Regions from separate parts of the Homo sapiens genome. Here region 1 is linked to region 2. The links come from fine-mapping of genetic effects on gene expression. A gene starts in region 2. The other region holds a variant in brackets. All regions are shown on one strand. Distances are between the middles of the regions. Region 1 overlaps BBS4 (Bardet-Biedl syndrome 4). Region 2 holds the start of BBS4 (Bardet-Biedl syndrome 4).

Evidence for each region.
Region 1: its variant is fine-mapped to the expression of BBS4 in whole blood (TOPMed, PIP above 0.99).

Annotation. Positions count from the first base shown.
Region 1 is chr15:72,721,641-72,727,014 of GRCh38, forward strand. It overlaps BBS4 (Bardet-Biedl syndrome 4), which reads left to right. Exons shown (of 16, transcript NM_033028.5): 7 at 1,154-1,207; 8 at 2,888-3,015. Among named protein-coding and RNA genes, the nearest start is that of BBS4, 38 kb to the left of the region's middle. The variant T/A (reference allele first, on the strand shown) is at 2,731.
Region 2 is chr15:72,683,240-72,688,613 of GRCh38, forward strand. BBS4 (Bardet-Biedl syndrome 4) reads left to right here and starts at 2,968. Exons shown (of 16, transcript NM_033028.5): 1 at 2,968-3,012. The coding sequence starts at 2,989. It overlaps HIGD2B (HIG1 hypoxia inducible domain family member 2B), which reads right to left and starts at 2,943. Exons shown (of 3, transcript NM_001350932.3): 1 at 2,579-2,943.

The DNA.
Region 1 (5,374 bases), 38 kb after region 2:
TAGGTGCTCAACCAATGGTTGCTGTTTTGTTGTTTTTACTATTTTTGGAGACTTGGAAAACATTAAATCAGTTGTTATCTCTGAGCCTGGGGGTCCATGTTTCCTCAGACAGGGACACATCTCCACTACTAATAGGGTAGTTCTTACTATGTTTCCCAAGAGCATTTTCCTTACCCTTGCTTTCTCCTTTTCCAAAGCTACCTTAAATAAAGGGAGGTTTATTATAAAGGAATTTGAGAGTCCATAAAACAGTATCAAGAGATGCAGGTTGGTCTTTTAGTGAAGCAGAACTGGAACGCTTCAGCATCCAAGGTAGCTACTCTGCCTTTTCTGCTTCATCTTTTCTTTCTGTAGATCAAAGGTTGGCAAACTTTTTTTGTAAAGGGCCAGTTAATAAATATTTTAATTTGTATAGCTTCATACAGACTCTGTTGCAACGACTTAACTCTGCAGTTCTAATGCAAAAGAGCCATACAAAAACAATAGTTGTGTCTGTGTTCCAATGAATCTGTACTTATAAAAAAGGGCAGGGAATGGATTTGGCCCATGGACCATAGTTTTCCCATGTCAGCTCTAGACTTCTGCAGATGGCTCCAATTACATGTATTCCATCACAGCAGACTCCAGGTGGCGCTGTCAGTCCTCAAGTTCACATCACCTAGTAAATTTAGTACTTGTAACTAACTAGCTCTCTTCCAATTCCAGATTCCTAGGGAAAGGACTTCAGTTGTGTCAGGTGTCACTATCCAACTGTGTTGCCTTAAGGGCGGAAATGTGTGGCTAGCAGCCCTCTCAGCAGGGGCTGTGGGTAGTCTCTCCTGAGAAGAAGGAGCAAAGGGTATGGGTGATGGGCAACTCTTAAAGAAAAAAGGTATGGGGATGGGCTGGGTATGTGCCCCAGGGTTCCCCATAGATCCAGGAAGATCACCTGTTTATTCTGCTTTTATTTCTTATAATCTGTATTTTTTTATGTTGAGGAACTTATTTTTAACAATTAATTTGAGTATGAACTCTAATAAAAAGCTGACTGTAATGCATAGTTTAAAGTTTAAACCTTGCCGAGCAATAACAATCTCTAGATGTCTGTTGTTTCACTCTAATACTTACTGTGGAATTACACCTGAGTTGTTTTCCTTCTTTTTTATGAGCCTAGGAGATCAGCCATAACCTAGGAGTTTGCTACATATACCTGAAGCAGTTCAACAAGGTAATTTATAGAAGTGGTGATAGATTTCACTGAGGGTGCACTTGTTGCAGAAGTTGTTACATTGCTCATTTGGTATTATCCCTAGTGCTTGCAGAGGTTTTTGGAACTGAAAATTGAAAGTACCTTTATACATTTTTTTCTGTTTTAATTCTCACTTGTCATTATTCATCTGTTGTTTTCTGCTTGTAATAAGAACATGGAAAGTTCTAGAAATATGAGGGAATGGCAGTTTTTCTCCTTTCTTCTTTTTCTCTACCTCCAGTTAAATTTCCCAGTTTAGAAACAGATGCTTAATAAAACATACATATCAAAAAGTGGACCCTTAAGTCTTAAAGGTGTGATCATGACCATGTGAGCTATCTCCATGCCCTGACGGCAACTTAGTTTTTAGGGTCATTGAAAATAAATTTTAAATTTTAAGTGGATCTGATTTCTGAGTTTTCAGTTTTAATTTTATAGTTATTTTCCATGATGAGAAATTATATTTCACTGTGATTAAGCTATAGACTCCTATATCAGAGAAGACAAGTTGAGCTTACCTCAAATTTGGTACTCAGGTAAGAAAAAGTATATATCATAATTGAGGAGTAGACAAAATTACTGAGAGCTCTAAAACTTAGTGATGAGAGCGTTGGGTAGTTTCCTTCATAGAGCTCACAGTTAGTGATTGTGAAGTTTTATTCTCCTTTCTCCGATGCCACCAGGACTGAGAATCTGAATTGGTTAGTACCCATTTGACAATGTTTAGTTTGTGTCAATTTGCAGACTGGTGTAACTAGTATCCCACACTGGTGTGAAAAAAAATATGCACATTAGCAGTTGGGGTGTAAAAGTAACTTTTCTCCTGAGATAACAATATATATACATAAAATACATTTAGTGGGCCCCTTAGGTTTTGTAGATGGATCTATAGTTTTATATACTTGGTTAGGAGATTTTTCTCTTCAGAGACAATTTCAAACAGGCACATTTCTATTCACAGGATTATTCTGAGTCAGGGGAAAAGAAGGATTTGTCTTTGGTTGGATCTGTGCTGAGAAGAAATATATTTAGATTTTACTGTACAGCTAACAGGCTAGGCAAATACAATACCTGGCATTTATATAAATGCTTGTTGAATCTGTGAATGACTAAACAAAGCCCTTTTGTTTACTAGGAGAAGGTAAGCTCCTCCAGAGCAAGGAGTTGGTTTTATAAACTCAAATATATTTAGCATCTAGAACAGCAAGCAGTTGGGTGAATAAATGAGAACAATCTATTTATTCATTTATCATCACATTGATGGGGAAACCTGGCCCACCATAGGGAAGGTTGTGCACTTGGTCAGTGTTACAGCTGGGATTTAGTTTAGTGTAGTACTCTACACTGTACTATGATGGCCCTTTTGACTTATGAAGTATGAGTCATAGGTGTGAATATCAGGCAGAAAACATTCAGAAAGATTAATCGTCTTGTATAAATTCTTCCAAGTGGCTCCAGAAGCAGATATCCCATGTTGCCAGCTGTCTTTTCAACAAGGACAG[T/A]TTTGGTATGTTTTGGTCTTTGGGTAGTGGGGGCTGTTTGCTGAAATGTGATGTTCCTATGTCAATACAGCAGAAAGTGTCTTTACATTAGCCATATAAAGGTATAGTTCGTTCAGTGGTAGTGATTTGGTTTTCTTTATTTTGTTAAACTTGTCAGGCACAAGACCAGTTGCACAATGCCCTGAATCTTAATAGGCACGATCTGACTTATATAATGCTGGGGAAGATCCACTTGCTGGAGGGAGACTTGGACAAGGCCATTGAAGTCTACAAGAAAGCAGTGGAGTAAGTGTATCTGTTTCCTTTAAAACAGTGAGAAACTAAAAAAATTGAGTGGATATGTGAACTCCCAAGCCTAAAAGAGTGAATATGTTTGATTAATTACTTACTGTATGAGTTAAAGGTTAAGCTGAAGTTTAAGAGCTCCCAGTAGCTTCAATAAGGTAGACTGTGTTTCTTTCTTACCTATAAGGATGACTGCTGCTTTAGGTTAGCTGGGCAGCTCTATTCTACAAGGTCAGCCAGGGATCCAGGTTTCTTCCTTATTAACTCACCATTCCTTAGGCTGTTGTCTTTACCTGCATGGTTGATGCTGAATGTAACATCCACATCCAGGCTGTGGTGGAAGGAGATGGTTTGGGAAGCTAAGCATGGAATAAGCATCTGGCTATATATATATATATATATAGAGAGAGAGAGAGAGAGAGAGAGAGACATGATCTTACTCCATCACTCAGGCTGGAGTGCAGTGGAGAACACAGCTCACTGCAGCCTCAACCTCTTGGGCTAAAGCAATCTTCCTACCTCAGCCTCCCAAGTAGTTGGGACTACAGGCATGTGCCACCATGCCCAGCTAATTTAAAAAAAAAAACTGTTTTTGTGTTGACAGGGTCTTGCTGTGTTGCCCAGGCTGGTCTTAAACTTCTGGGCTCAAGCGATCCTCCTGCCTCAGCCTTCCAAAGTGCTGGAATTACAGGTGTGAGCCACTGCACCTGGCCTTGGTAATAAGTTTTAAATGACCCAGAAATTGCACACATCGTTCCTGCTTACATTCCATGGTTCAAAACTACATGATAGTTACAAGGGAAGTGGGCAGACATGCACTCAAGAAGAAGGAAATAACAGATTTAAGAGTTGGCCGACAGTCTGCCATTTTGGTATCATATGTTAATAACAGATCTTCTGTTTTCAGAGATATTATTAGGGACAGAAATCTCCTGATTCAGTAAAAAACAAAACAAAACAAAACAAAACATTTGGCCTTATTAGCATGAGACCAGTATCTTTTTTCCCCCTTCCCCATTTTCCCTTCCCCTTCCCCGTTTTCCCCTTCCCTTTCCCCGTTTTCCCTTCCCCCTTTTCTCTTCCCCCTTTCCCTTTCCCCCTTCCCCCTTCCCCCTTCCTCTTCCCCTTCCTCCTTCCCTCTTCCCCCATCCCCCTTCCCCCATCCCCCTTTCCCCATCCCCCTTTCCCCATCCCCCTTTCCCCATCCCCCTTTCCCCATCCCCCTTTCCCCATCCCCCTTTCCCCATCCCCCTTTCCCCATCCCCCTTCCCCCTTTCCCCTTCCCCCTTTCCCCTTCCTCCTTTCCCTTCCCCCTTTCCCCTTTTCCCATCTCCCTTCCCCTTTCCCCTCCCTCTCTCCCTTCCTTCCTTTTTCTCTCTTTTCTTTCCATCCTTTCCCTCCCTCCCATTCCCATCTTTCTTTGTTTCTTTCTTTTCTTCCTTTCTTCCTTCCTTTCTTTCCTTCCTTTCATTTATTTCAACAGTCTCGCTCTGTCGCCCAGGGGTGAGTGCAGTGGCGCGATCTCGCCTCACTGCAACCTCTGCCTCCTGGGTTCAAGCGATTCTCATGCCTCAGCCTCCTGAGTAGCTGGGACTGCACGAGCACGCCACCACCCCTGGCTAATGTTTGTATTTTTAGCAGAGACAGGGTTTCACCATGTTGGTCAGGCTGGTCTCGAATTCCTGGCCTCAAGTGATCTGCTTGCCTTGGTCTCCCATAGTGCTGGGATTGCAGGCGTGAACCACTGCGCCCAGCCTTGTGTTGTTACTTTTAAATGGGATAGCTGTAGCAAAATGCCTTGTCTCATTTGTTTGGTCCCTTAATAGAATGTCTGGTCTGTGGTTCAAGGCTTATTATTCCTAATAATTAGATTCTGAACTAAACTTAGATTTCTATTAATTTGTTAATCATCTTTGTCTTCTACCATGGTAGTAAATTTTCTGGTTATATCAGTCACAGCACTGCTTTCTGAATTTTCTTCAACCATATTTTGTGTCTAAAACAGAAAAATCCCTTGGTTTGTTAAGCTACAGAACAGACTTTTGTCATCAAGAGGCTGTATATTTGGGCAAGTAGTAAGGAGCCATGTAACATGTTCAGTGCCTCTGTGGTGCTAGGTAGTAGCCCTGATCCCTGACCCCTGCCTTCTAGAGGTTAGCTCTTTGAGAATAGCATACATAAATCCCAAGGGGAACATTCTTCCAGTAACTGATCAAGGACTTTGGTCACTAAATTTCCTAAGGGAGAAATGTGGACAGCTAAAATCTGAAGCCTTACTGAGAAGATAGAGACCATTGTTCATGACCTACAGCTTTGAAGAGAGTAGTCATGTTGTAGTGGGGAAGCCAATATTGCTAGA
Region 2 (5,374 bases):
GGATGTTGTATATTCTCTGTAGAGGAGTGTTGGGGATTCCCCACATCAGCAGAACTAAAGGGTAACTGAAGAGAACAGGGAGTGACATGTCAGATTGAGAATCAGTCTTTTGAAAGTGGCAAAAAGAATATGTGTTAAAAGAAAAAATAGGGTAGAAGATAAAAAGAATAGGGCAGAAGATATTAGCTTCAATTCCTCCTTTTTTTTTTTTTTTTTTGATCCTTTGGAATGATTTCTTCCTAGACTGCCAGTGTTGCGTAGTAACCCCGCCCATGAAGAGGACTGGAATACTGAAAAACTGCATGAAACTAAGCGCTGTGGGTTGGGCGGGGTGGCTCACGCCTGTAATTCCACACTTTGGGAGGCCAAGTTGGCTGGATTGCTTGAGCTCAGGAGCTTGAGACCAGCCTAGGTAACATGATGAAACCCCATCTTTACAAAAGATACAAAAATTAGCTGGGTGTGGTGGCATGAAGCTGTAGTCCCAGCTACTCAGGAGGCTGAGGTGGGAGGATCACTTGAGCCTGGGAGGTAGAGGCTGCAGTGAGCCGTGATTGTCCCACTGCACTTCCGCCTGGGCAACAGAGCGAGATCCTGTCCCAAAAACAAAAAAACTAAGCACTGTGGATTAGAAATTAATAATTTTTCATCTTTATATCTTTTTTTTTTTTTTTGAGACAGTCTTGCTCTGTCTCCCAGGCTGGAGTGCAGTGGCACGATCTCGGCTCACTTAGGCAAGGTGTTTAATTAATCTCTGAAAAGTGGAGAATTTAGCACCAGGCATGGTGACTGGTGCCTGTAATCCTAGCTACTTGAGAGGATGAGGTGGAAGTGTTAAAGGTGGAGGGTGTCCAGGTTCTTGGTGTCTTGAAAAAAGAATTGGACAAAATGCACAAACAAAGCAAGGAAGGGACAAGGAATTTACTGAACATGAAAGTACACTCCAGTGTGGGAGCGGGCCTGAGCTTAGAAGTTCAGTGGCTCCGTTACAGAATTTTGGGGAGTTTAAATAACCCCAGAGGATTCCATGGTTACTTCGGGTATGCCTTATGTAAATAGAGAAGATGAAGTAAAGTTACAAAGACATTTATGGCCTATGCCCTATGGACAGAATATTACCTGTTATAGCTGAAGTGTGAATTGGCCTTATGTTCCCTACCTCCAGACCCTATTTTCCTGCCTCAGGAGGATTACTTGAGCCTAGGAGTTCAAGTCCAGTCTGGACATCAATAGTGAGACCCCTGCCTCTGAAAAAAAATTTTTTTGAGACAGAGTTTTGCTCTTGTTGCCCAGGCTGGAGTGCAATGGGATGATCTCAGCTCACTGTAACTTCCACCTCCTGGATTCAAGCAATTCTCCTGCCTCAGCTTCCCTAGTAGCTGGGATTACAGGAGCCGGCCACCACGCCCGGATAATTTTTTGTATTTTTAGTAGAGACAGGGTTACACCATGTTGGCCAGGCTGGTCTTGAACTCCTGACCTCAGGTGATCTGCCCACCTCAGCCTCACAAAGTCCTGGGATTACAGGCGTGAGCCACCGAGCCCAGCAAATTTTTGTTTTTTAGACGGAGTCTCCCTCTATCGCCCAGGCTGGAGCACAGAAATGCGATCTCGGCTCACTGCAACCTCTGCCGCTTGGGTTCAAGTGATTCTCCTGACTCAGCCTCCCGAGTAGCTGCGATTACAGGCGGGCACCACCATGCCCGACTAATTTTTTGTATTTTTAGTAGAGACGGGGTTTCACCATGCTGGCCAAGCTGGAAAATTTTATTTTTAATAAATGAAAGGCAGAGTATTTATCTGAAAAAAGTGGGAGACCAACAGTCTCATGGGATTGTTATAAAGATTAAAAGAGAGAGTGTTACTGAAATACTTAGAAGAGCTGTTATTCTATTGCTGTCCTTTCCCCTTGTATTTGGATAGATTACCGTACTTGTTTCTTCTATGTAACTCTAATTGTCAGTGGGGTTCTCCCTCTCTTAGAGGCCTGGAGAAACTTGTCTTAAATGCTTTCCCAGTTAATGAATTGGGAGAGGCAGATTTTATGTCTAAATTACAAGGGCGAGACTTAAAAGTATGAATTGGGGCTAATGTCAGTGCTCAGGTGCAGGGATCCTCCGTTTTGTTCATCACACAGCTCCCGGCACTTTAATAAATGAGGCTCAAAGAAACGACGGGCTTAGGTCATGCAGTAGTCAAATTCAGAACTCATGTTTGATTCCAAAGCCCACACGTTTTCCTAGTTTAGAAACACTAAACATTTAATTCACCGCACCGGGGGCCAGACAGGTAATGGAGAACGCCTTAAGTATGTTAGGAAGGGAAGTTATCTACAGTCGCAGCCGCTATTCAGATCTATTTCACTGCCTTGCAGAAAACGCCGACTGTCGTCTCTTTATCCCATGGCCGATTTCTTGTGAAATCTCCTAACTTTTAAATATTTCCAATCAAAAGACTGCCGTTCAAATGCAGCCCACCAGGAGCATGTTTGCAAACTCTGGAGTAAACAAGAGTGGGAAGCTGATAAGGTGAGTACCTCAGTTCGATAGTGACAGCCAAGAAACGGGGAGTTTTGTACCTAAGGCGAGAAAGAAATTCTCCGCCGAAATCTCCCGGAAGAAGGACTGAATTAAATGCAGATTAGAGTCAGGGCAGGGTAAGGTGGCGGGAGAACTAGGCTGCCATCCCAGGTGGCTGGCCTACCAGCCAGCGCGGCCGGAGGTACAGACCATGTACAGACCACGGCGAGGGGTGTTAGGGGCTTCTCGGGATAAAGGCAGCGAGTGGCTGCGCATTCCCTCCCCGACTCTTTCAGAGGTAAGCCTTCTGTGGAGCAGACCCTAATCCTCCCCCTGATTCCTTAGGTCACTCGGCGATTTACTTCCTTCCCCCGCTTCCTCACAGTCCTCCACAGCCCTACGACTTCCGCTTGCCTCGTCGTCTGGGAAACCGCCGACTTCCGGCCGCGCAGCGGTGGGCTGAGCTAAAATGGCTGAGGAGAGAGTCGCGACGGTGAGCGCCGAGATTCTCTTTAGTTGCCCGGCCGCAGGGCAAGGCAAGCTGGCGGGTGGCTTTTGTCCCATGCAGCGGTTCCTGGAGAGAGGCGGAGCTGGGTGCCGAGCGTCTCAGGGTGGGCGGGGCGACACGGTCCCCTTTTTACTGTCCCGGGAACTGGTCGCCTGGGGCAAGTCTGGATACTTAGCAGCACAGGTCCTGTTCTAGGACTGTAGTCCCTCTTGGGGTGCGCTGGACGGAGAAGGGAGACTTTTCACCAGTAATGGCTCTTACCGTAGTGCCATCTTTTTCTGTCTCGGGGGTTTGGAAGGTAATGACTAGCACTTGTGTAGACAGTTCCTGTTAATCCCGTGAATTGGGAATTTAACATGCCTGGAAGCTTGCAGCGTCACTGCCTTCTGCCAGTGGAGCGGGACTGTGTTTTTTCTGTGGTGATTAAGTTTAGGAAAGTACGGTTTTGGAATTCATCTGAAGGCTGAGTTGGGCGTTCACTCCACAGAACTGCTAATATAGAGGAACCCGATGAATTCAGGATGACCTAGTCGCTATTTTTTGAGGCATATATCTATAATTGGATCTAATTTCGGTAAAGTGCCAAGTGTGAAGCTTTGTTTACCTTGCTTTAGTGTTGGGTTTGAAAGCCTGTTCTGTCCATTTGTTAGAATGATTTTAGGTATTCGGAATTTATTGTCTTTCGAAAAACGCCCTGGAAAACAGTACAAATAGCAGCCTTTGGCTGTTTTACAACTTAGTTTTGGCTAAGCAGCAAGGTTAGTGTTATTGTTAGAGGGCCTTTTGTTTGTTTTCTACTCTCATTTGCAGAGTAGTCATATTATTCTAGTCTAATTAGAAAACTCTGAAGACAGAAACTTTTTTTTTTGAGACGGAGTGTCGCTGTTGTCGGCCCGGGCTGGAGTGCAATGGCGCGATCTCGGCTCACTGCAACCTCCGCCTCCCAGGTTCCAGCAATTCTCCTGCCTCAGCCTCCGGATTAGCTGAGAATACAGGCGCCTGCCACCACGCCCGGCCGAAACATTTTTATTAAGCTAAGAAATTTAAAATAGCTAGGCCGGACGCGGTGCATCACGCCTGTAATCCCAGCACTTTGGGAGGCCGAGACGGGTGGATCACTTGAGGTCATGAGTTTGAGACCATCCTGGCCAACATGGTGAAACCCCGTCTCTACTAAAAATACAAAAATTAGCGGGGCATCGTGGCGCTCGCCTGTAATCCCAGGTACCTGGAAGGCTGAGGCAGGAGAATCGCTTGAACCCCGGAGGCGGAGGTTGCAGTGAGCCGAGATCATGCCATTGCACTCCAGCATGAGCGACAGAGACAGACTCCTTCTCAAAAAAAAAGAAAGAAAAAACAGATTTTAAAATAATTAAATAGGCCAGGCTCAGTGGCTCACGCCTGTAATCCTAGCACCTTGGGAGGCTGAGGTGGGTGGATCGCCTGAGGTCAGGAGTTCGAGACCAGCCTGGCCAACGTAGTGAAACCCTGTCCCTACTAAAAAAATACAAAAAATTAGCTGGACGTGGTGGCGGGCGCTGGTAATCCCAGCTACTAGGGAGGCTGAGGCAGGAGAATCGCTTAGAACCCAGGAGGCAGAGGTTGCAGTGAGCCGAGATCGTGCCATTTCACTGCAGCCTGGGCATCCAGAGCAAAACTCCGTCTCAGAAAAAAAAAAAAAGTAAATAGCATGGTTAATGTTACTGGGTTTTAAATATTAAAAACATAGGAAAGAAAATACTTCCACTCCAGCCTGGGTGACAGAGCAAGACTCCGTCTCAAAAAAAAAAAAAAAAAAAAAAAGAAAATACTTCTAAGTAATCTTAAAGTGTAAAAGATAATGGGTAACATAACATTGCTACAAATATAGCTTATCCTCTAGTGCTCATCACAAGTGTTTGTGTAATAGAATATGAACTTGAGTCTGTGACGGCAGAATTGTCATGTACATTTGAATGTCTAATACTGTTTTAAAGAGAATAGCTTTTGTTTCGATATGACTTAGCAATTAAGCCTGAAGTTAACTGTTTTCATTGTTGTCAAATTTATTGCTAGTAGTGTTACGTTTATAGTAATTTTCATCTTTTCAAGTTACCAATGCATGGAAATGTGAATTTCTGTCCTTTTAGGAAGTGGTATTTTATCTTTTTTTTTTTTTTTTTTTTGAGACGGAGTCTCACTTTGTCGCCCTGTCTGGAGTGCAGTGGCGTGATCTCAGCTCAGTGGAACCTCTGCCTCCCGGGTTCAAGTGATTTTTCTGCCTCAGCCTCCCGAGTAGCTGGGGTTACAGGCCCTCACCACCATGCCTGGCTTATTTTTGTGGAGATGGGGTTTCACCACGTTGGCC